6 linked regions of the Homo sapiens genome follow. The protein of the gene in region 2 purifies or fractionates together with the protein of the main gene of each other region. This does not show direct contact. Each region holds a gene or a part of one and is shown on either strand. Other genes may lie near its edges.

Evidence for each region.
Region 1: the proteins of ISOC1 (region 2) and HEBP1 fractionate together in Homo sapiens (co-fractionation; one large-scale study listed by BioGRID). This does not show direct contact.
Region 3: the proteins of ISOC1 (region 2) and UMPS fractionate together in Homo sapiens (co-fractionation; one large-scale study listed by BioGRID). This does not show direct contact.
Region 4: the proteins of ISOC1 (region 2) and ASNS fractionate together in Homo sapiens (co-fractionation; one large-scale study listed by BioGRID). This does not show direct contact.
Region 5: the proteins of ISOC1 (region 2) and PAK2 fractionate together in Homo sapiens (co-fractionation; one large-scale study listed by BioGRID). This does not show direct contact.
Region 6: the proteins of ISOC1 (region 2) and LACTB2 fractionate together in Homo sapiens (co-fractionation; one large-scale study listed by BioGRID). This does not show direct contact.

What each region holds. Positions count from the first base shown.
Region 1 is NC_000012.12:12,983,003-12,986,804, forward strand, and holds part of HEBP1 (heme-binding protein 1), read right to left. Parts: intron 1,641-3,802; exon of another isoform or gene 342-1,640; intron 1-341.
Region 2 is NC_000005.10:129,097,718-129,101,519, reverse strand, and holds part of ISOC1 (isochorismatase domain-containing protein 1), read right to left. Parts: exon of another isoform or gene 3,754-3,802; intron 1-3,753.
Region 3 is NC_000003.12:124,743,901-124,747,702, reverse strand, and holds part of UMPS (uridine 5'-monophosphate synthase), read right to left. Parts: intron 3,789-3,802; coding exon 3,619-3,788; 3' UTR 1-3,618. UniProt on the Homo sapiens protein: Bifunctional enzyme catalyzing the last two steps of de novo pyrimidine biosynthesis, orotate phosphoribosyltransferase (OPRT), which converts orotate to orotidine-5'-monophosphate (OMP), and orotidine-5'-monophosphate decarboxylase (ODC), the terminal enzymatic reaction that decarboxylates OMP to uridine monophosphate (UMP).
Region 4 is NC_000007.14:97,865,664-97,869,465, reverse strand, and holds part of ASNS (asparagine synthetase [glutamine-hydrolyzing]), read left to right. Parts: intron 1-286; 5' UTR 287-309; coding exon 310-558; intron 559-3,802.
Region 5 is NC_000003.12:196,798,712-196,802,513, reverse strand, and holds part of PAK2 (serine/threonine-protein kinase PAK 2), read right to left. Parts: intron 588-3,802; coding exon 487-587; intron 1-486. UniProt on the Homo sapiens protein: Serine/threonine protein kinase that plays a role in a variety of different signaling pathways including cytoskeleton regulation, cell motility, cell cycle progression, apoptosis or proliferation.
Region 6 is NC_000008.11:70,658,929-70,662,730, forward strand, and holds part of LACTB2 (endoribonuclease LACTB2), read right to left. Parts: exon of another isoform or gene 2,970-3,802; coding exon 2,806-2,969; exon of another isoform or gene 1,217-2,805; intron 1-1,216.

The sequences.
Region 1 (3,802 bases), on a different chromosome or scaffold from region 2:
GTGAGGCTGGCAATATACCAAAGGTCCTATGGCCACTGAATGATGAACTGGGTTGGAGCATAGGTTACCCTGAAAATAAACTCCTGGTTTCCAACTTTTTCCTTTATATCTAGACATTTCATTTAAACCGTGAAAGTTTCATTAAGACCATCAAACTTCTCCTGCTGTTGGTCCCTATTGAGAACCTGGTGCTGAAATGAGCTGAAAAGGCCAAACTCTAACTTAAGTGCATAGAGAAAGGACAGTAGTCTGGAATGTTGCTGCTGGTCTAAGTGTGAGGATAATTCTATTGCCTCTTGTGAATACTAAACATATTCTGATAGTGCTATTTTTTTTCACAGCATTCTATTCATCTAAAAGCACCGGTAATTAACGATGCTAATAAATGTATAATCCCTTTGTAAACATCTCTTCACAAGGTCATAAAGAAGGAAGACTGAATGAAGGACGCCAGGCTTTCATTTTAGAATTAATTTTGTCATTGAATGCACTCACTGCATTATTTGATAGAGTACTTTTGCATTTGAAGTAGTACATTTGCCTTCTACCATCTCATTAACATTGCTTTCAACAGAATCAGAAATAACACAAACCACTGCAGGGTAATTTTGAATGCTCATTTGACTATGCAGTGACATCAAGTGGCGAGTTGAGGAATGATCATATGCTGTGTGAGAACTCCGTGTTAAAAATTCCATGGAGCCAGGCTAGACACCACATTTGGCACTTTCAGCTGTTTAGATTTCAGAGAATTAAAAGGAAATGGTCACCGACCTGCCTTTGATAGTACCCGTATACCCCTTCCCACCATAAGAAACCAGCGTTCCTTAGAGAAATGGCTAATTCTAGCTCTAGGGCAAGAAATGCTAAGATGTGCTCAAAACATCTCATTATACCAGCAAGCCAGGGAGCCATCAACGACTACTGGAGCTGTGTCAAAAGGACCAACAAACCAACTTGAAGAGGCTCCCGCTGGCCAACAGTGGGGCAATTAGAGCATCAATAAGAATAATATCTGTAACAAACTGAAACGTATCAAATATGTTTAAATTCATATGTTTATAATTACACTCAAAAAACGAAGATGCAGACCACTTTACCTTGAGGATGTTACAGAATGAAATTATCATTCTGAAAACTGGTAAATAAAGAGAAGGTATCAAGTAAGCATGTATCTGGCTTTTTCTATATGAAATAAAGGAAGCCAAATAGTAAACGAGGGGAAGTTTCTCTTTACTGAAATATTGCAGGTAATAAAAGAAGAAGGAGAAACAGAGAACATTATCGTTTTATGGCCTCTAATGGAACAAGACATCTAGGCAATGATGAACTATGGTCACCAACATCACTCAATCAGGGACAATCAGACACTGTGGGCCCCTGAAGGAAGTAAACACCACCACGTAGGAAATATTCTCACCAAAACTTCAAAAACTTGAATCTGATCTAGTCTTTAGTTTCAACTACTAATTTACAGGCAATACGGGGCTCAGAGGGATGTGGTAAAATGTCACGGAAATATAATCAGCAAAATCCAGTACAGATAATAAGAAGACAAATGATCCACAGATGGAAAGGAAGAATGTAAAGTTGTGTTGGTAAAGAAATTCACAGATTAATAAAAGCTTAAAAATGTACCATCAGCCAGGTGTGGTTGTGTGCAACTGTAGTACCAGCTACTTGAGAGGCTGAGGTGGGAGGATTACCTGAGCCCAGGAGTTTGAGGCTGCAGTGAGCTATGATCACACCACTGCACTGCAGCCTGGGCAACAGAGCAAGGCCTTGTCTCTTAACAACAACAACAAAAAGAAAGTACTACAAAATCTGACTTGGATCCAGATTCTAACAAAATATTAAAACAAATGATGGCCAGGCGTGGTGGCTCACGCCTGTAATCCCAGCACTTTGGGAGGCCGAGGCAGGTGGATCACAAGGTCAGGAGTTCAAGACCAGCCTGGCCAAGATGGTGAAACCCTGTCTCTACTAAAAAACTACAAATATTAGGCACAGTGGCAGGTTCCTGTACTCCCAGCTACTTGGGAGGCTGAGGCAGGAGAATTGCTTGAACCCAGGCAGCAGAGGTTGCAGTGAGCCAAGATCGCACCACTGCACTCCAGCCTGGGCAACAGAGAGAGACTCCGTTGGAAAAAAAAAAAAAGTAATGGGGGAAATCTGAGCATTGAATATTTTATATTATAAATTAATGAAGTACTATTGAAATTTCAGAAAAAAGGTATTGTGATTATATTTTAAAAAAATCTTCAGTAATTACCTGAAATATTTATGAATGAAATAATATAATGTCTGGAATTTGCCTAAAAATAATCCAGGGTAGGGCTGGGTGAATGCTGTGAAGATACACATGACACAGAATTGGCCTTGAGCTGATCGTTGCTGTAGGTAGGGGATGGGCACATATGATTTCATGATCTTATATGCTTCTACCTTTCTATAAGTTTGAAAATTCCCATACTAAAAAGTTAAAGACAAAAGAAAAAAAAATTATATCCACTCATTACTCAGGGTCTGGTAAAACAAATGATCAGAAACTAGCCCCATCTGCTTGAAGTCTTAATGTGAACTGATTCAATCATGTCTATCTCATTCCTTATGAAATAAGAATGAACAGACAGAAGGGGTAATTGCCAAAACCTGCTTCAGGTCATAAACATTAGGTAATACATAAATAGTATCTTAGTAAATACTGAAAGATATTTAACAATAATCCTATAAGGTTACATTACATGCACACACACACACATCATATATAGGAGGTTATATTATCAGCACTTAACAAATGCAAAAGCTAAGTCTTAAAGTGGCTAACTTCCCAAGCATCATTCTGCTAGTAAGCAGTAGAGCTGGAATTCAAATAAAATACAAGTTCATTTTATTATACCTGCTGCTTCCCAAACACAGGAAATAGAATGGAAAAGACAAGCAGACATCTAACCCAGGGCACAAGATTTAAGGAGGCGCTCACTCTCAGTCCCCATCCTGCACTTGGACAGCTGTGAGAGTGAGTGCTTCCTTAAATGCTGCACCCAAGGTGCATCTCCACCCTAGGAAAAGATATTGTTAAGTTAATTTGCTTTCTCCACACCCTCTGAAGGGAAGCTGGGAAGTCTGAATGAGGACTGCAGGACAAGCACAGGAGCTGAGGCTCCGGTGCTAGCTCCCAGCTGCATTACATTCACTGTCCTCTGGAGGGCCCTGCAGTCACCTGGCCTAGGACTACACACAGCGGTGAAACTCACATTCTCAGAACATTGACACAGCTCCGGGGAAAATGGTCCCACCATCAGGTTCAGGGTTGCAGCAGGGCAGCCAAGTTTGGAGGTCCCTGAAGTGGACCAATACTCAGTCCAGTGCAATATTATATGTATGTGAATTTTTCATGAGGTTGCTCCTGAGCGGAGCCAAACCACCTATGATTACTTCTGGTGAAGATCCTGGTCTTTCCCTGAGCCTGGTTTGGTGCCTGTCACATGGGAGTGTTTTAACAAATGTGAGGAGTCATCAATGATCTAGAAGACTTGGTTTCTGAGGGCAGTTTGGAGCACAAGGGATAGAAACTAGTAACCATTTGCACCTGCTATTCTCTACAGTCAAGGGAAAATGACCCCACATGAAGTCCTGGAAACAGGACCAGGATGACAAGAGAATAGATGTGTGCTCTGCTCAAAGGACTACCATCCAGGAACAACAAGGAGGATGGAAGCCCAGCTCTAGCAAATGCTCCCTGCTCTCTGGCATTCAAAGGGAGTGTGGGGTAGAAATCAGGTATTCCTCAGCCCTTTAT
Region 2 (3,802 bases):
TTGTCTCTACAAAACATATTTTTTTGAGACAGAGTCTCACTCTGTCGCCCAGGCTGGAGTGCAGTGGCGTGATCTCGACTCATTGCAACCTCCACCTTCTGGTTCAAGCGATTCTTGTGCCTCAGCCTCCCAAGTAGCCGGGATTACAGGCGTGCACCACTGCACCCGGCTAATTTTGGTACTGCTAATAGAGATGGGGTTTCACCATGTTGCCCAGGCTGGTCTTGAATTCCTGGGCTCAAGGGATCTGCCTGCCTTGGCCTCCCAAAGTGCTGGGATTACAGGTGTGAACCACTACACCCAACCCAACCATATATATATATATATTTTTTTTTTTTTTTTTTTTTTTTTTTTTTTTGATTAGCTGAGCTTGGTGGCCCAGCTCCTCAGGAGGCTGAGGTGGGAAGATCCTCTGAGAACGGGAGGTCGAGGCTACAGTCCAGCCTGGGCAACAGAGCAAGACCCTGTCTCACAAACAAACAAACAAACAAACAAACAAAAACAATAGGGAATCTGGGTACAGGAATATAGGAACTCTCTGTACTATCTTTACAACTTTATTGTAAATCTAAAGCTATTCTAAAATAAAAAGTTAGTTTTTTTTTTTTAATGGCCTCCCTATGCTATGATATTTGGGGGAATAACGTCTATACCTTACAAACAGAAAGGAACTTTTGTGGCTACCAAAAACATACTGAAAAACTTTAATCATGTCCAACCAATCCTCCCAAATCCTCACCCCAAATCCACATGAATTCCAACAGGCTGTTAAAATCATACAACTCTCTAAATTTCGGAAATTTCTTACTTTGACTCATGAAGTTCTCTTAAACCAAAATCTTTAAGGTAATTAAAAAATATCGCCAGTAGCCAAACATTTACATGTTGCAACTGTAAGACAGCCAGTCCTGCCTCAGCAAATTAAAAGTGGACTGGACCAAATGTCACCAGGAGTAAAAGCATAGCAATTACAGATCTATGCATATTTAAGGAATATAAACAAATCACATATAAATATATGTATCCACACACCTTCGTATATCTATATGCCTACACATAGTCCTACACACACATTTGCACATGATACATATACAAATATATATATATTTAAATATAAAAAGTTGATCATAGCCAATGGCTTCCTCAAGCAAGAGTTTAAGAGATCAGATTCAAGTATAAATATTTTGTCTACTTTCTTAAGAATTGTCATAGCTGGGATTTGACCTTAGATTTCATACTCAAAAGACTTTTCACATCACCCAGCCCATAGCAAATTACTATAGGGATTTGGAATAATTAAAATTTGAAACTGTAAATGCGATGTTTAAAAAATTTGGTAGTCAATTAGAGTCACAAAATAGGCATGATCTGTTTGGGAGAAAGTCTGGAAGGGGACCTGGGGCATCGTTATTTCACTCCCAAGTGTTTCTGAGGAAATCCGATGACCACAGCTATAGTAAGGCCTGGCTCCAATGTCAACTCACTTACAACAGAGGTCTGTGATGTGACTCCCCCAGGTTACAAAGATCCCCTTTATAGCACAAGCCTCAGTAGGCATTAGAATCTGAGTGCAAATCTCAATTTCACTAATTTCGATTACATGAACTTAGGTAAATATCTCCATATGCAATTTCCTTATCTGTAACACAGCAAGAAAAATAGTATCTACATCATAGGGGTATTTCAAGGATTAAATGGGCTTCATATAATCAATCAATAAATGTATTAGGCTATTCTGATGTCCCTCATATATTAAACACTACACTCTAAAACTTAGCATATGTTAAAAAACTTACCCTCTAATGAGGATAAATATTTACAATTAAGATCCCTTTAGAAACCTATAAATATATTTATAGGAATGCTAACATTGCATAACTTGTTATGTTAACATAATATGCAGAATAAGGAAAGTGAATCATAAAGTGATTTATAAAGTAGATTTCCAGATGTTACCAAGACCTTACCAAATCACTAAGACAAGATTGTTCCTGGAAAAACAGATCAGGGACTTTTTAATTTAGGCTGTGAAATAATACTTATTGGCTCTTATTTTTACAACATATTCACCTATTGTGAACATTGATGTCACTGGCATAAGGTTACAACCCTAGCTTATCAGTTAAGGTATGAGTTTTCTAAATCCCCAAGGGACGCCAGCTGTCTCCACCCACCCCAGGGGTGAGGACTGAAGGATTTCTTAAGACTGTGCCTCAGACTGGGGTGAAGGTGAAGCTAGACAAGCCCAGGACCACAATGACATTTGAATCTACATTGGGATTCCCTTGGTTAGCTAAATGCAAGAAAAAAAATTCAAAATTCAGATCATAGCTCCTACTCTCAAACACAGTTTATTTATAGGTAGCTCTAATGTATTCAGAAGGAGCAAAAAAGGATACAATGCTTTAGGTATTATTCTGGAATGTTAATTTTTTTTTAAGTGACACACATCAAACCAATGGGGTAGAGACAATACAACCACCTCAGGATCCAGCTGTCTCCTCTCTGAGCATTAGCTCATCTACCCCCTCTTCCTGCCACGCTCCTGAGGCAAAGGTTTTGTAATCAAAAACCACTACCTTCAAACTATCAAGCCAAAGGCGAACAAGGTTCCTTTCCTCCTGCCTTCCCTCCCTTCCCACCATGAACCTGTCAGTCTCTTCTAGCTATAAAATGTTCATGCCCCTGTTTAAAATAATAATAATAGTAATAAACTTCCAAGAAAATGAAAGCTGGAGCAAAATGCCCTGCCAGTTAACCATCTTGGGAAAAGGTCAAAATAACCTTCCCTGGAACGCCCTTATCTTCTGGCCACAGAAAGCTGCCAAAGCCTTCCCTGCTATGTACAGAAGTAAAATCCCCTCACTGGCATCCTTCTTACACTGTCCATTTCCTCCTCTCTTCTCTGCAGGCTCTGTCTTTCCTGGCCACAGGCTGGAAAATGCACTGGTGGTAGCATGATACAACATTTATGTAAATTTCCATAGTTAAATGTTTCCTTTACCTAAAACTTACAAAATACCTTTTGAAAAATTAAAACTTTTAAGTCATAAAAATGACGTAAATCCCCACTACATAATCCTCTCATTTATATTCTTTCCCGTGTCTCAAAATTCATCAGATCTCAAGCATTTGGCAAAGCTGCAGACATACAAACCAAGCATGAAACATGAGCTATGCCTTCATCTACCTGAGCTGTCGGCAGACATTGTTACTTTGACAGAATATTTAAGAAAAGAAGTCACCAAAAACTTACCACAGCCTAATACTGGCAATGGGGGGTCTTAAAGATCAGTTCTCATAGAACCACTAACAAGCACGGGTGCAGTGTGGCAAAGGCAGCCACTGTGTTTCACAAGGTCATCAGCCACAGCTGTCAGAATAAGCACGAAGGCAACTCATACCACGGCGCAAATGAAGAATACATTCTAGACTAACAGTACGTGAGCCAGGGCCACAGAGGCTCCAGGGCCCAAGTGTGGAGAAATAATAAATCACTATTTACGCAATGAACTACATGTGGCCAAACTTGTGCTCTTTGTCCCTGCCTTCAAGAAGGGGCCAACCATCCCCAGTAACATGGACTCACCGATAGGCCACCTTGAGTCTTCCTAAGTGACAAGCATTTATTCCAAAGAACAAGGAGCAGCACCAAGACAAATGAACAAACAAGAGCTCAAGTTTGTGACTTGTTTTCCAGACTGCTCAATTCTCATTAAACATGCAAGCAGTAGTGCTGTGTTCGGCTGTAAGTGACGCTCTGCATATGCCTGGCTAGCTCCTCCACACGCATTTGTGGAGG
Region 3 (3,802 bases), on a different chromosome or scaffold from region 2:
AAGTTAAATGTATTTAGCTAGATATTGCCGTGTAATAAACCACCCTGGAACTCCATGGCATGCACTACTAAGCATTTATCACGCTCCCAGGCTTACAGATCAGCTGGGGCTTTCATACATTGGACGGGGGAGGCTGGAGTAGGCTCTGCTCTACTTTCTCTTGCTCTTCAGAAGCCATGGGCTAACCAGGGCATATTCTTCCCATGTGGTGGCAGAAGCCAGAGAGGGGTGAGCAGAAACACGAGAGTTTGGGTTCAGGCTCGGAACTGGTACTGAGTGACTCCCACCCACCGGGTACTTTGGATGAGAACTGCACCCAGGCCAGCATTAGCAGCTAGCTCAGCGGCCAGCACCCTCTGCTGTTGGCTCTCCTGTGGCTGCACCCCTGACAGCCAGGTCTGATGACCCAGATGGCAACCACTGCAACTGGAGTGGTGTGGGCTCTGCTGTCGGGCACACACTGAGTCACAGTGAGAACCTCCTCCACCGTCTCTACAAAAAATTTTAAAAATTAACCAGCTGTGGTGGTGCACGCCTGTAGTTCCAGCCACTCGAGAGGCTCTTGAGAGCTACTTGAGAGTAGTTCCAGCTACTTGAGCGGATCGCTTGAGCCCAAGTCAAGGTTGCAGTGAGCCATGATATACTCCAGCCTGGGCAACAGAGTGAAGACCCTGTATCAAACAAACAAAACAAAACAAAAAACCAGCCCTCGGCCTACTTTTGGCAGATTTTCTTAGAGCTGACTCAGTAGCACAAGGGTGAGTGTTGGGACTGAGATCCACAGGCTGGCTGTGAGACTGAGCATATCCCTTTACGATTCTGGAGCTACACTTTGGGAGCTCTAAAATAAGAGGAAGTGCACCAAATAGTTTCTTAGGTTCCTCCAGTGCGCACGCGCGCGCATGCACACACACACACACACACACACACACACACACACACACACAATCTATGGGCTTATGTTCTACAGAATGCCTCGAGTAGCTGGAGAGGCTGGGGGATGGCGTTCTCCACTCCATCAGTCTCACAGACATTCTGTGCACCCCATGGAGACATGGGGTCCCTATATTCCCCACTAAGACCAGGAGTTACAATGCCCAGAGATCATGTTCTGTAAATATTCCTTGACTGAGAAAGGGTTAAACTATCTAATGCCTCCAAAATACTTCAATGCTGAAGAACAGCGCTTGTATAGCCCAAGTTCTTCTCTGCCTGAATCAACTTGTCCTCTAAAGCTTTGATGCCAGACTGGGATTCTGCTTAGGTAAGAGGCCTGCAGTACTGGGCTGACTCTTCACAATAGAAATACAAATCAGAAACAGATCACTTGAGGCACCCATTAGAAATGCACACGCCCAGGCTGCTGGGCAAACCACAAATCTGCTAACGCAGAAACTCTGATGGTGTGGGGCACAAGGACCTACACTTTCAGTAAGTGGCAGGGGCTGGGTGATTATTTGAGCCTCCTCTCATTTCCCCTCAAATCACCTTAGCAGGGGTCCTGTGAAATAGGGTTCATCAACAGGAACAGTGCCTGCGTCCTGGAGATGGCAGGAGCCCACATTTCTAAAGGACAGGAGCATGTGACTCTTAGCAGGAGGCAGACCTCAAGGCTGTCTCACTGCAGAGGCAGAAATGTGAATAACCAGTGAAGTGGTTCTCAAAGTCCAGTCCCTGCGCAGGCAACCGCAGCATCACCTGGGACCTTTTTGGAAACGCAAATTCTCAAGCCCCATCCCAGAGCTACCCAGAGTCAGAAACGCTGCGGGTGGGGCTGGTACCTGTTTTGACAAGACTCCAGGTGACTCTGATACCTGCTAAAGTGGGAGAACCACTGACACATGGAAGTGACAGCCAGGGAGGTGGGCGCCTGAGACCTCAGCACATCACTCCAAAGGCCTCTCAACATATCACTCCAACACTGAAGACACCTAAGAGATTCCTGCAAGTTTTTGTCAGAAAATTCTTCTCCCCTTCATGACTTTTGGCTTCCCCAGAGTAGCCCTGAGGGCCAACTCCCTTCCTGCTCCTTCTGTGGCCACTTCTTCCTTGAGAGTTGGTCTCTCCCACAGACAGCATTTCCCTGGAGATGCAGCACTGGGGACATGAAGCCCAAATTGGACTTTAGAGCAGAAGCTCTTGAAGTAAAAACTTCAGGAGGGAATATAATAAAAACCTGAGTTAAAAATCCTAGGCTTGTAGTCCCAGCTACTCGGGAGGCTGAGGCAGGAGAACTGCTTGAACCAGAGAGGCAGAAGTTGCAGTGAGCCGAGATCGTGCCACTGAACTCCAGCCTGGGCGACAGTGAGATTCTGTCTCAAAAAAAAAAAAAAATCCTAGGCATTCCTCTGAGTCATTAAAGAACAGTGGGCCATCAGCTGACAAGGGTGGGGAAATGGCTGATCCTGTGCCACTTCCTGCAGGTGGGCCCCAAATGAGAAGGAATGTGAGTGTGCTGGTGCAATGAGCACCGGGACAGCCCTCACCCTGCCCCTGCTCAAACACCACCTTGAATGTGGGCTTTCTCTTTATTATTAATGAAGGCTTACCTCCCCTCTACTAATGACCGTTGGGACAATTATGTGGGATCCTTAAGCAAATACCCAAATGGAATCTTAGACCTCCTAATTGTGAAGTCAGTCACAGGAAGCTGTCACTTGTGTTACTACTGGTCCATAATTGCTGGCTAGGGGAAAAAATGAGCCCAAACCCCAACTCCGGTTGTTGAAATAACAGCCAGATACTAGCTCAGGAGCTGAGCTATAGTCACCTTCCCCTTCCCCACCTTCCCCTCTTTGGAGAGTGAGCAATGGCAGTTCTGGGAACCAGCCCATGTGGATACCTGGACTATCACTTTTAGGCCAGAGATGGAGGGGAATGGCTAACAATTAGGTATTATTTGGGCAACACATTAGACAGAGAATACAGGACACAAGAAAAGCTGTGCTGACTTTAGCCTCTTGGTGCCCTAGAATTTTTGTCTTACTGCAATTAGGCTGGGCACAGTGGCTCACACCTGTAATCCCAGCACTTTGAGAGACTGAGGCAGGAGGATCGCTTGAGCCCAGGAGTTGAGACCAGCCTGGGTAACATGGCAAGACCTCATCTCTACAAATAATAAAGAAATTTAGATGGACGTGGTGGTGCATGCCTATAGCACCAGCTAATCTGGAAGCTGAGGTGGGAGGATCACCTGGGAGGTCGAGGCTGCAATGAGCCGTGATCTCACCACTGCACTCCATCCTGGGCAACAGAGTGAGATCCTGTCTCGAAAAAAATTAAAAAATAAATAGAATAACAAAGCAGTCTAGTCCCATGGAGAGATAGGAAGGATCCTCAAATGTGGAAGACCCTAACCCAGACAGGACTGTGGCTGTCTAACAAACACCAGTCTCAAAAAAAGCAAGCTTAAGAATGAACTTATTATAGTATCAATGCGGTGATTACAAATTACTCAATATTTCCTAAAGACCATGAGAACTCCAGAACCCATTCTTACACAGGCCCTGTGGAAGAATCCAAGCAGGAATAATTGGATTATTTCCAGCCAGTGACTTTCAGGAGGACCACATATCTTCAATGTCTTCACATTGTATCTGAAAAATGTATCTGAAGCACTCAAACACCAAGTCTACTCAAATACGCTTCCCAAGCAGCTTTTCTGTACATCTCTGCTGCTTCCAGACGATCAGCTGCTGAGATTATGCCACGACCTACAATGATGATATCGGAACCTCGTTTGCCAATAACTTCTTGTGGGCTATTGTACTGTTGGCCAAGATTATCTCCTGCAAGAAACACA
Region 4 (3,802 bases), on a different chromosome or scaffold from region 2:
TAGCCAACCACTAAATCCTAAGGTGGGAGAGATGCAGGCTTTGGCTAGGTGCTAAGCTGCTGTAGCCGGTTGAATGTAGAGGTCACTATCTTTTCCGAATACCTGTAAGTAAATTAAATCATTCTCTACTCCCATGTGCCTGCCAACCTAATGGGAAATCGCTATAGAAAAGATGGTTTAAATTTTAGTCTTTGAAGTGGTTTATGCACGTTTCCGGAATCAAGATTTAATGCAGAGTTGGATTGGATATTGAATATTTTTGATTTGTCTGCTTTTCTCTCCATAGAAAGCTTATAGCTTCATTGCACCATGTGTGGCATTTGGGCGCTGTTTGGCAGTGATGATTGCCTTTCTGTTCAGTGTCTGAGTGCTATGAAGATTGCACACAGAGGTCCAGATGCATTCCGTTTTGAGAATGTCAATGGATACACCAACTGCTGCTTTGGATTTCACCGGTTGGCGGTAGTTGACCCGCTGTTTGGAATGCAGCCAATTCGAGTGAAGAAATATCCGTATTTGTGGCTCTGTTACAATGGTGAAATCTACAACCATAAGAAGGTGAGGAGAAAGAAACCAGATGTCTGGATGCGATTAAACTTCAGAGTTTGTTGGTTACGATGATGTTACATATTCTGTATCATGCTTTTTCCTTTGCAAAGCACTCTATGTTCGTTATCTCATTTGCTCTAAGTATGTAAATAGGGAACTGATGAATAAAAAGGTGAGTGAAATGACTTGGTCACAAAAAAAGTGATAAAAATGGGGATTACAGTTCAGTTTCATTGACTCTTAGAATTTTTTCTCCTTCTCCCCAGCTTTTCATTTTGAAAAAATTCCTAACATACAGTAAAGAACAGAACAACAAGCACCTAGATTAAATAGTCATTAATGTTTTGCCATAGTTGCTTGATTTTTCTTTCTACACACACACACACACACACACACATGTTTTTGCTGAATCATTTGAGAGTACAGTGCAGATATTATGACACTCCTAAATATATAAGCATTTATCTCCTAAGAATAAGGACATTCTTCTACATAACATCAATGCCATTATTAAACCTAAGAGTCCATAATACCACCTAATATCCAGTTAATACTTAAATGAAATTTCCCTAAGTGTCCCAAGAATATTTTTATTTATTTATTTATTTTGAGACAGAGTCTCATTCTGTCACCCAGGCTGGAGTGCAGTGGTGCGATCTCGGCTTACTGCAACCTCTGCCTCCCAGGTTCAAGCAATTCTCCTGCCTCAGCCTCCCAAGTAGCTGGGACTACAGGCACCTGCCACCATGCCCAGCTAATTTTTTGTATTTTAGTAAAGACAGGGTTTCACCATGTTGCCCAGGGTGGTCTGGAACTCCTGAGCTCAGGTAATCTGCCCACCTTGACCTCTCAAAGTGCTACCAAGAATATCTTTATAGCTGGTTCTTGTTTGTTTTGAGCCAGATTTCATTCAAGGTTCATGCATTTGGTTGGTATGTTTCTTGGTATTTTTTGAGACTTCTTGATAGATACCTGTCAGGCATTGATAGAGATTTACATCCTAATCACATTTTGGACATTTTTATCTGTGAACAATAGCTTTTGTCATTGTTTGTTGCCTGCTCATAGGAAGACTCTTAATAATAGTCTTCTCATTTAAAAAGTTTTAAAATAGTTATTCAGGAAATTCCTTTTACACATTTCTTTATTCCTTTATTAAGGGTCTACTATGCACCAGACATCATTTTTCTAGGTGATTGGAGATGAAATGGTGAAAAGGAAAGGCAAGAATGGAATTTCCTGCTAGTGGGAGGTAGAAGAAGAGAGTATTAAAAATTTTTTCTAAGTCAAATAATGTCATATACATGAGAACGCTAGGTGGTATTATGGCATTATCAGCTTGGCTTTCCCCTTAAATGAAATAGGAAGTGCCCTGTTTCACTTGAACAGTGTTATTTCTTTTATTAAAAAGTTACAAGAAGTTAAATATTTTGAAAATAATTAATTTCTATTCTAAATTAGCCAAATGTTATATTTGTAAAAGTAGAGAAGTTTGTTCCATTGCTTCTACCAAGCATCTAAGTTTATGTAGTTGGGGCAGCTAGCAGTCTGTCTAATGAGCAGAATGTATACTTTAGGCTTATATAAAGTATTCAGAAATCCCCCCCACACCTCCTTTTTGGTAAAAATAAAGTTTACCACTACAATAAAATACAGCCAGAGGTGTACTGGGAGTAGAAGGAGACTGAATGAAAGAAAGGAGGAATGGGGTAAAGGCTGGGGCAAAGAGCAGGCCCTCTCCCTGCAGGGGAGTATCAGGGCCTGCAGCCAAGTCAAATGACAGCATGACGTCAGGAGGCAAGATTTGAGGGCTTTTATTTAAGGTGCAGCATTGGAGTTTGGTTTTAGGAGAGTAGGAAGTAATACATCCGTTACCCAAAGGACCCTTCTCCTTTTTAAATAAGTTACCTGCAAAGTTTAGGCCAAAGAGGTGGGTAAGGTAGATTTGGGAAGCTGTTGCTTACTAATATCACCGAATGCTTTATGGTCACTAACCCTTCAGGCAGTTCAGCCCAGAAGAGTCAGCAGAAGACTGTTTACAGGCCCCCACCTGCTAGTTACAGATCATCCCTGATAGAGCAGAGAGGGGTGACCAGGTAGTGACTTTGTAGTCACTGGAGGCAAAGCCCATTTTTGGACAGTTCAGTGAGGACTTATAGACAAAAGATTCACAAATTATGGAGTGAGTTGGATGGAGTGTGAAGCATATTTATGGGTCATGCACATACATAATAGGTTTACTTTTTGAAATTTGAAAGCATGTTTTAAGCTTATCTAGGATTTCCACCTGATTTAAACCTCTTCTTTCTCTAATGTCAGCCAAAAACCCGAGTACAAAGAAGAAAGAGGAATACATCAAGGACTTTTCATCCTCATAGTTTGCCATTAATGGCTCATAGTTTGCCGTTGATGGTGGAGAGTGTCAGAATTGGGGAGTAGCCTAATCAAACCTTCTTACTCTGCATGCAGTGGCAGACAGTCCCTTTGCTGTTCTTTTGGGGAATGCAGACTAATAAAGCGCCACCGTCATTTTATCTATCAGTAAGGAGTAGCTTTAATGCTGCTGCAGTGGTGGAAGCACTGGGCATTGTCATCCACCCCTGGGGACCAGCAGCTTTGTTTTGGATCATGTATCTGTTATTGTGATGGAGCCATTTATTTTTCAGGGAATGATGCCAAATGATGTTTGTCCCTTTGCTTTACATTTTTATAGCTAGGACTTTGAAGCTGAACTGGAGGAACTTCTTAGCCAATACTATCTTCTCAAATCAAAAGTTTATAGTTGCAAAAGACACGTTTTTTAGTGTCATGGCAACCAGGCAACCTATTATCTTAACTTAAATTTAGAGGTTGAGCATCCCTAATCTGAAAATCTGAAATTTGAAATGCTCCAAAATCTGAAACTTTTTGAGCACTGACATGACATTACATGTGCATTTTGATGTCACAGTCAAAATGCAGGTGTAAAACACGCAGTTTATTTGGCGTTCCCTAGGGAAAAAAGACCCTCTCAGCCCGCTTCAGCTGCAGTATAACTTTTCTACACATGCCCGGATTTCCCCATGCAAGCACGCCCACAAAGGGTAATAGAATGGCACATGTTCAAGCTGGATACGCCATTGGCAGGATCCCCACAGATGGGACTTATGTGCATTATCCATTGTGTATTTTTGCTTATTTTCTGCTCTGTGGTGTTAAGATACTGAAAATGTCAAAAAGACCTGTAGATATTTCTATGAGCAGCAGTGATAAG
Region 5 (3,802 bases), on a different chromosome or scaffold from region 2:
CTCTGCTCTCTAGGAAAACGATATATCCAACCACTAACACTTTTATAAAAAGCAAAAAGCAGTAAGAATTCATAGTTAACGTATAGATAGAAATGTTAATTTCCCTTTTTTTGAGACGGAGTTTCACTCTTCTTGCCCAGGCTGGAGTGCAATGGCACAGTCTCTGTTCACTGCAACCTCCATCTCCGAGGTTCAAATGATTCCCCTGCCTCAGCCTCCTGAGTAGTTGGAATTACAGGCATACACCCCCACGCTTGGCTAATTTTCTTGTATTTTTAGTAGGGATGGGGTTTCACCATGTTGGCCACACTGGTCTCGAACTCCTGACCTCAAATGATCTGCCAGCCTTGGCCTCCCAAAGTGCTGGGATTACAGGCGTGTGCCACCGCACCTGGCCTGAAATGTTAATTTCAAATTTAATAATGAAGGAAAATGTTTGAGTGCTATTTTAAACGTTATAAATGGGCCCGAACTAGGTTAACTTACAGTGAATTCTCCAGTAACAGCATCAAAGCCAACATGGATGGTGTGCTCAAAATCAGATGGAGGAGAAATTTCTGGCCGTTCCTTTTCTTTCTTTTTACTTCCTAGGGGGCATTAGAAAAAAAGAGAAAGAATCAGCCTATTTAAACAAGACTAGTAAAGGCACTTATAATTTTATTTTTTGTCTTTTGTTTTTTTAAATGGAGTTTCGCTCTTGTTGCCCAGGCTGGAGTGCAGTGGTGCAATCTCAGCTGACTGCAACCTCTGCTTCCCGGGTTCAAGCCATCCTCCTGCCTCAGTCTCCCAAGTAGCTGGGATTACAGGTGCCCACCACCATGCCCGGCTAATTTTTGTATTTTTAGTAGAGACAGGGTTTCATCATGTTGATCAGGCTGGTCTCAAACTCCTGATCCACCTGCCTTGGCCTCCCAAAGTGCTGAGATTACAGATGTGAGCCACCGCATGCCCGGCATATTATGTTTATATTTTTCCTAAAACATATTAGGATCAAAGTTATTCTAGAAAACACACTAGAATCAAAGTTATTCTAGAAAAGATTTCCCCTAAAAACTGGCTGATAGGAAACTAGTAAATGAAGTAAAGCAGACTGTCCTGCCATAGAGTAGGGCTGGACACAACCAAACACTGAGGAGGCACATGGAGTGACCAACGGCAGGCCTGAGTAACAGAGCACAGGCAGAAGAGACACCCCCTTCGGGCACCAGCTCTCTCACAAAGGGCTACATCTCAGATGCTGAGCAATGTGGACAGCAAACACAGCAAACCCCATTTCCACTCAGCTACATTCATCAGGAAGTCAGATTTGCATTACTGTGACTCCGCAGATAATACACACTGTCAAGACAAGTAGTTGACAAAACCACCTCTCCTTTTTTGTGCAAGCATAATCCTTTTTTAGTGGAGTTACTAATTGCCACATTTTAAAACTATGCAGTTTTTCTATGGTCCGATTGTAAATTATTTCTGCAACATTTCTGCCACACACCTATCAATAATGTTCTCTGTGAACTCCAACACATCAGTTCCTTCCCCCTACCCCCTCCCTCTCAGCTCCTCCTGCTCTAATCTGCAGTAGCTCATGCCTACGCTTCCTGCAGTTACCGTCCATGACATCCCTTCACTCCTGCCCTGTATGTGCTGGAATCTATTTTCTGGATCTTACGTTTTCCTCTTGATTTATCCCTTTAGTGATAGTTCTTCACTAATTTTATATATATATAAGTTGGAACCCTCAGCATTTCCAGTGTTGCCATTTAGAAGGCCAGCGCCATTTTGGTTCCTGTTTGGAGCCACTGTTGAAAGTCAATTGTCTGTACACGTGTGAGTCTATCTCTGAAGGCTCTGCTCTGTTGCAATTATCTGTTTGTCTGCCTTTATGCCACTATCAGACTGCCTTGATTATTTTATTGCCATTTTGTAATACGCATTGAAACTATGTCACATAAGTCTTCTTTTTCTTTTGTCAAAGCTGTTTGGGTAATCGAGGTCCTCTGCATTTCCCTATTAATTTTAGAATAAGCTTATTAATTTCTACAGAAAGCCTGTTGGAATTCTGACTAGAATTGGAATGAATGTACATACAGATGAATTTTAAGGAGAATTTCTTTCTTTCTTTCTTTTTCTTTTTTAACAGGGAGTCTCATTCTGTCGCCCAGGCTGGAGTGCAGTGGCGTGATCTCAGCTCACTGCAACCTCTGCCTCCCGGGTTCAAGCAATTCTCCTACCTCAGCCTCCTGAGGAGCTGGGATTACAGGCATGCACCATCATACCAGGCTGATTTTTATAATTTCTGGTAGAGATGGGGTTTCACCATGTTGGCCAGGCTGGTCTCAAACTCCTGGCCTCAAGCGATCCATCTGCTTTGGCTTGCCAAAGTGCTGGGATTACAGACATGAGCCACTGCACCTGGCTGAGAATTTATTTCTTGATTTCTTAACAACACCGAGTTTTCTGATCCATGAAAACAGCAAATCTTTTCATTTATTTAGGTCTTTAAAAATTTCTCTCAGCAGTGTTTGCAGTTGTCTTCATCCGTTCGGTACGCTTTATCAGAATACCACTGCCTATGCAATTGATTAATATAAACATTAGAAGCTGGCTGCGAGCAGTAGCTCATGCCTGTAATCCTGGCACTTTGGGAGACTGAGGTGGGCAGATCACATAAGGCCAGGAGTTCAAGACCCATCTGGCCAACATGGCAAAACACTGTATCTAAAATGCAAACTTCAGCCGAGTATAGCGGCACAAGAATTGCTTGAACCCAGGAGGTGGAGGCTGCAGTGAGCCGAGATTGTGTCACTGCACTCCCCAGCCTGAGTCACAGCGTGAGACTGCCTCAAAAAAATAAAAGTTCATTTGGCTCACAGTTCTCCTGGAGGCTGGAAAGTCCTCCAGGTCAAGGACCAAGAAGCCACACCTGGTGAGGGTCCTTCTTGTTGTGTCATAACGTAGCCGAAGGCATCACATTGCAAGAAAGAGAGCAGGAGAGGGCCAAACTGGCTTTTATAAGCAACTCGCATCCACAATAAAGACATGAGTCCATCCGTGAGCACTCGCGTCGCCTCTTGAAGGTCCCATGTCTCAACACTCTCTTACTGGGGCTTCAGTTTCTAACACATGAACTCTGGGGGACACTTAGAAACAGAGCAGTAGTTATCAGTGCAGAGCGCACACTGTTTCATCAGATTTCTGCCTCGGTATTTCCTGGTTTTGATACTATTGCAAATGGCAGTTTTAAAATTCCCTTTTTAATCATTCATTGCAGCCATAAAGAAACACAGTTGTTTCTTGAATACTAATCTTATATCCTGAAACCTTATTACACTTACTTCCACTAGTATTTTTGTAAATATACAATTTTGCTACAAAAATTCAATCATGTTGTCGGTGAATAAAATCAAGTTTACTTCTTTCCAATCTGGATTCCTTTTATTCGTTTTCTTAAAAAAAATTTTTTTTTGCCTTACTACATTAGCTAGACCCTTCAGTACATTGTTGAATAAAAGTGGATGAAGAGAAATTTTATTTTTCCTGATCTAAGAGGAAAAACTGTCATTCTTTTTACCCTTAAGTTTAATGCCAATGGTAGGTTTTTAAAAGATGTCCTTTATGAGGCTAAAGGGCATTCTCTTCTATTCCAAGTTTGCTGAACACTTCTATCAGCAATGGATACTGGGTTCCGTCAAATGCCTTTTCTCCATGTATTGAGACAAACCCATGGCTCATCCTTTCTATTGTGTTAATACAGTAAATAACATCCATCGATTTTCAAACTTAAACCAACGAAATCCACTTGGTC
Region 6 (3,802 bases), on a different chromosome or scaffold from region 2:
AGGCAGGAGAATCGAATGAGCCCAGGAGGCGGAGGTTGCAGTGAGCCAAGATCACGCCATTGCATTCCAGGCCGAGCGACAGTGCGAGACTCTGTCTCAAAAAAATAAAGCATTAAAATGAGAATGAGCATGACATATGTGTGACAACATAATGCTACCAACTTTCTACTGCAAAATACTGGCTAGGAAGAGTGGAGATAAAGTTGGATAGGTAAGATAAGCTCAGATCAGAAAGGGTCTCAAATTGCCTTTTACAAAATAGGAGAATTTAAACTTTACCACGTGTAATCACTGCACACTCTTTAGTAAGATAATGAAATAGTGTTAACTGATGATCAATATGGCGGCTGTGGGTAGGGAGACCAAAAGGAGATCAGAGAGCCCAGGAGGGGAATGACTACAATTTCCCAGCTAGAAGGTAATGAATAGTAGGGTTAAGACGGTAGCACTGGAAATATGAAGGGAGAAAGAGATATTTCAAAGAAAAATGGACAAGGCACAGAAATTTGCTAGTTTGAGGATAAAGGAGACAGAAACACTGAAATAAAAAGAAACAACAACAAATACCACCTCCCCTTCCAACCCCAAACTCTATTATTTTGTATCTAAGAGGCCGAAGGAAAACAATGATATGCTTTTCTGGGAATTGACATTATATAACAAGATTGAGATATTGAGGTTTTTTTGTTTGTTTTGTTTATAAGCTGTATAATTTTATCTTTCAGTAAAGAAATGGAGGCATTACATTTCTGCTTATGAGACCTTTAGTAGACAATTAAAAAATCACAATTATATCAAAATTACAAAATAAATGTCATACTATAACTTTGTATCTGTCTTCAAAATTATGTGCAAATATAAATGAAAACACATATCCTATTTGAGTGGTTGTTGGAGGCTGGGGATGGGGGAAATCACTGCAAAGCAGCATGAGGGGACCTCTTTTTGGAATGGAGGAAGTGTTCCATATCTTGACTGGAATGGTCACATAGGTATTGATGTTTGTTAAAACTCACTAAACTGTTCACTTAAAATGGGCACATTTTATGTATGTAAATTAAAGCTCAATAAAATTGATTTATGAAGGAAAAAAGTGGGCCATAAACATTTTAATTTTTCAAACTGAAAAATCTGAAGAGTTGGCTGAGGTGACAAAGCTAATTAAGAAATCACAGAGTAGTTTCTTTTTTTTTTTCTTTTTTTTTCCCGCAAACAGGGTTTCACTTTGTAGCTCAGGCTGGTCTTGAACTGCTGGGCTCAAACTATCGTCCTGCCTCAGTCTCCTGAGTGGATGGGATTATAAGCACACACCACCGTCCCTGGCATAAAATAGTTTTTTAATTCACAAGATTTAATAGGTAGATTAAAAGAAGAGGTAAGACAAAATTAAAAGAGGTAAGACAAGAGAAGGAAAAGTCAGACTGACAGATTATAAGTTCCTATGGTACACAGTCCCCTTAGATTGGAAGAAAGGAGCTAAGAGGGTAAGGAAGCTTGGTTGCCAGTTTTTTATAACTGGCAGCCTGGTGATATTGGGTGTGGTAGCTGAGATGTCCCAATTGTAGTCACAAGGCCTAAAAAAGCAGATCTTTACAAATGTTTAAAAATACTAGCTCAATGTAAATAAGCATGAATGTTCTTGACCTCCTTACTGTGCCCTGAATGTGCCAACCACACTCTCATTCCACCATCTTTGCTCCTGCAATGCTGTTTGCCTGCAGGCCTTCCTGCCAGGAGCTTGCTCCTTCTCTCTGTCCACTCTGGATATAACAGCCCTTGCCCTTCTCCACTTTACGCTCTCTTCCCTTTCTCTTCTTGTACCTTTATTTTCCTGCATAGCACCCATGATTATCTGATCTATTTTTTTCCCTTTTTTTTTCATTCTGGTGCCCAGGCTGGAGTGCAGTGGCACAATATTGGCTTACTGCAGCCTCAGCTTCCCTGGCTCAAGCCATCTGCCCACCTTAGCCTCCCGAGTAGCTGGGACTGCAGGTGCACGCCACCATACCCGGGAAATTTTTGTACTTTTTTTGTAGAGACAGGGTCTTGCTATGTTGCCCAAGCTGGTCTTGAACTCCTGAGCTCAAGCAATCCACACACCTTGACCTCCCAAAGTGCTGGGATTACAGGCATGAGCCACTGCACCCAGCCTGATCTATTATTTATTTACCAGTACCTTCCCTACTGGAATGAAAGCTCCATGAGAACAGAGTCTGTTTTGTTCACTGCTATACCCCTTGTGCCAAGAACACTGTCTGACATATAACAGTAACTGGAATATTTAATGAATGAATGAATGAATCTAGGTATATGATGGTGGGATGAGGAAATAAAGAGATAGAAAATGTCAGTACTGTATAGGTTTCAGGGACAATGAATTATCAATACAATGATATATTGCCTGAATTTCAGCATATCTTAGTAACTGCCTTAAAGTTACAGAAGGACTGAGATAATCTGTTAGAATGTGAACAATAAGAGCACCTACCTCACAGTATCCACATAAATTGTTTAGTGCAGTGCCTGGCACAGAGTAAATGCTCAACAGTTGTTAGTTATGATTAAGTCTGAATAGTAACTCACACACTAAAGTAAAATTGAGGATTTGAAACAGAAATCAGGATTTCCGTTCCTCCTTTGTTAAAACTAGGCACAGTATTCAACAGTCTAATCAATTTCTAAAAGTACCATTTAAAACTGAGGTATTTAGTAAATGGTTTATAGACTACTTAGCTCTGTAACTGAAATAAATTATTCTCCAAACACGGCTTTCCTCAATGAGCTTAATGAATGTTTTCTGTTTACCATTATTGATGCTTTTACAAATATCTCCTATGCCTCCAGAATGATCTCGGTGCCAGTGAGTCACTACAATTTCCTGGATTGCTGTGTTAAATTCAGTTAGAGCCTGCTTTAAACAGCTGATGTATTCTGGAATTGCTGGTTCTCCAGTGTCAATGAGGATTCTCCTGAAAATTAAATGGAAGATAATCACACAATTGGAACACTGCGTTGACATTAGCATTATTTTGCACACAGATAATTTACATTAAAGAAACTGCAAAAATTATTTTACTTTTAACATGCACAAAAACCAGCTACATCACTTCAGCTTAACTACAGTAATCTCACCCTAAGAAAGTTTTCTGAGAAAAATTAGAGCTAAATATAAGTCTGAACAAGGAATAATAGCAGTCATCTTGAACATTTACATAGCAATTAAAATAAACATGGCACCATTCCAAGGACTTTACATATTTTACCAATTACATTCCTCGTAACAACTGTTTAAAGTAGATATTTTATCATTATATTTAGAAGTAACTTGCCCAGGTTACTCTACAGATAAATGGCAGAAACAGCTTTCAAACCCAGGTATTCTGATGCCAGAATATGTGCTTTTATCTATCTGCCTTTGAGATCTCATATCTCAGTATATTTCAAAAGTTTTATAGATATGAAAGATTTTGATTCAATGGCACCCCTAAAGAAACTAGTCTTTGGCACTAGATATACAACTTATCACTGAAGTTTTATATTAGCACCCTGACACATGAAAATGAAGGCTTTAGTGAAGCATGGGAAAAACATCTGAGCTATTTTCTTTCTTTACTTAGACAACCCCATTAGCTGTATTTTTTGCTTGTGGTTCTGAATCTTCCTTATATTTTGTTTGCCCTTCCTCACGATTTTATGAGGTGGCCTTTCTCTGTGAAGTTTTGCTGAACTAAAGACATGGGGGTGACATGTTCCTCAAGATCCAATTCTTTTTTTTTTGAGACAGGGTCTTGCTCTGTCACCC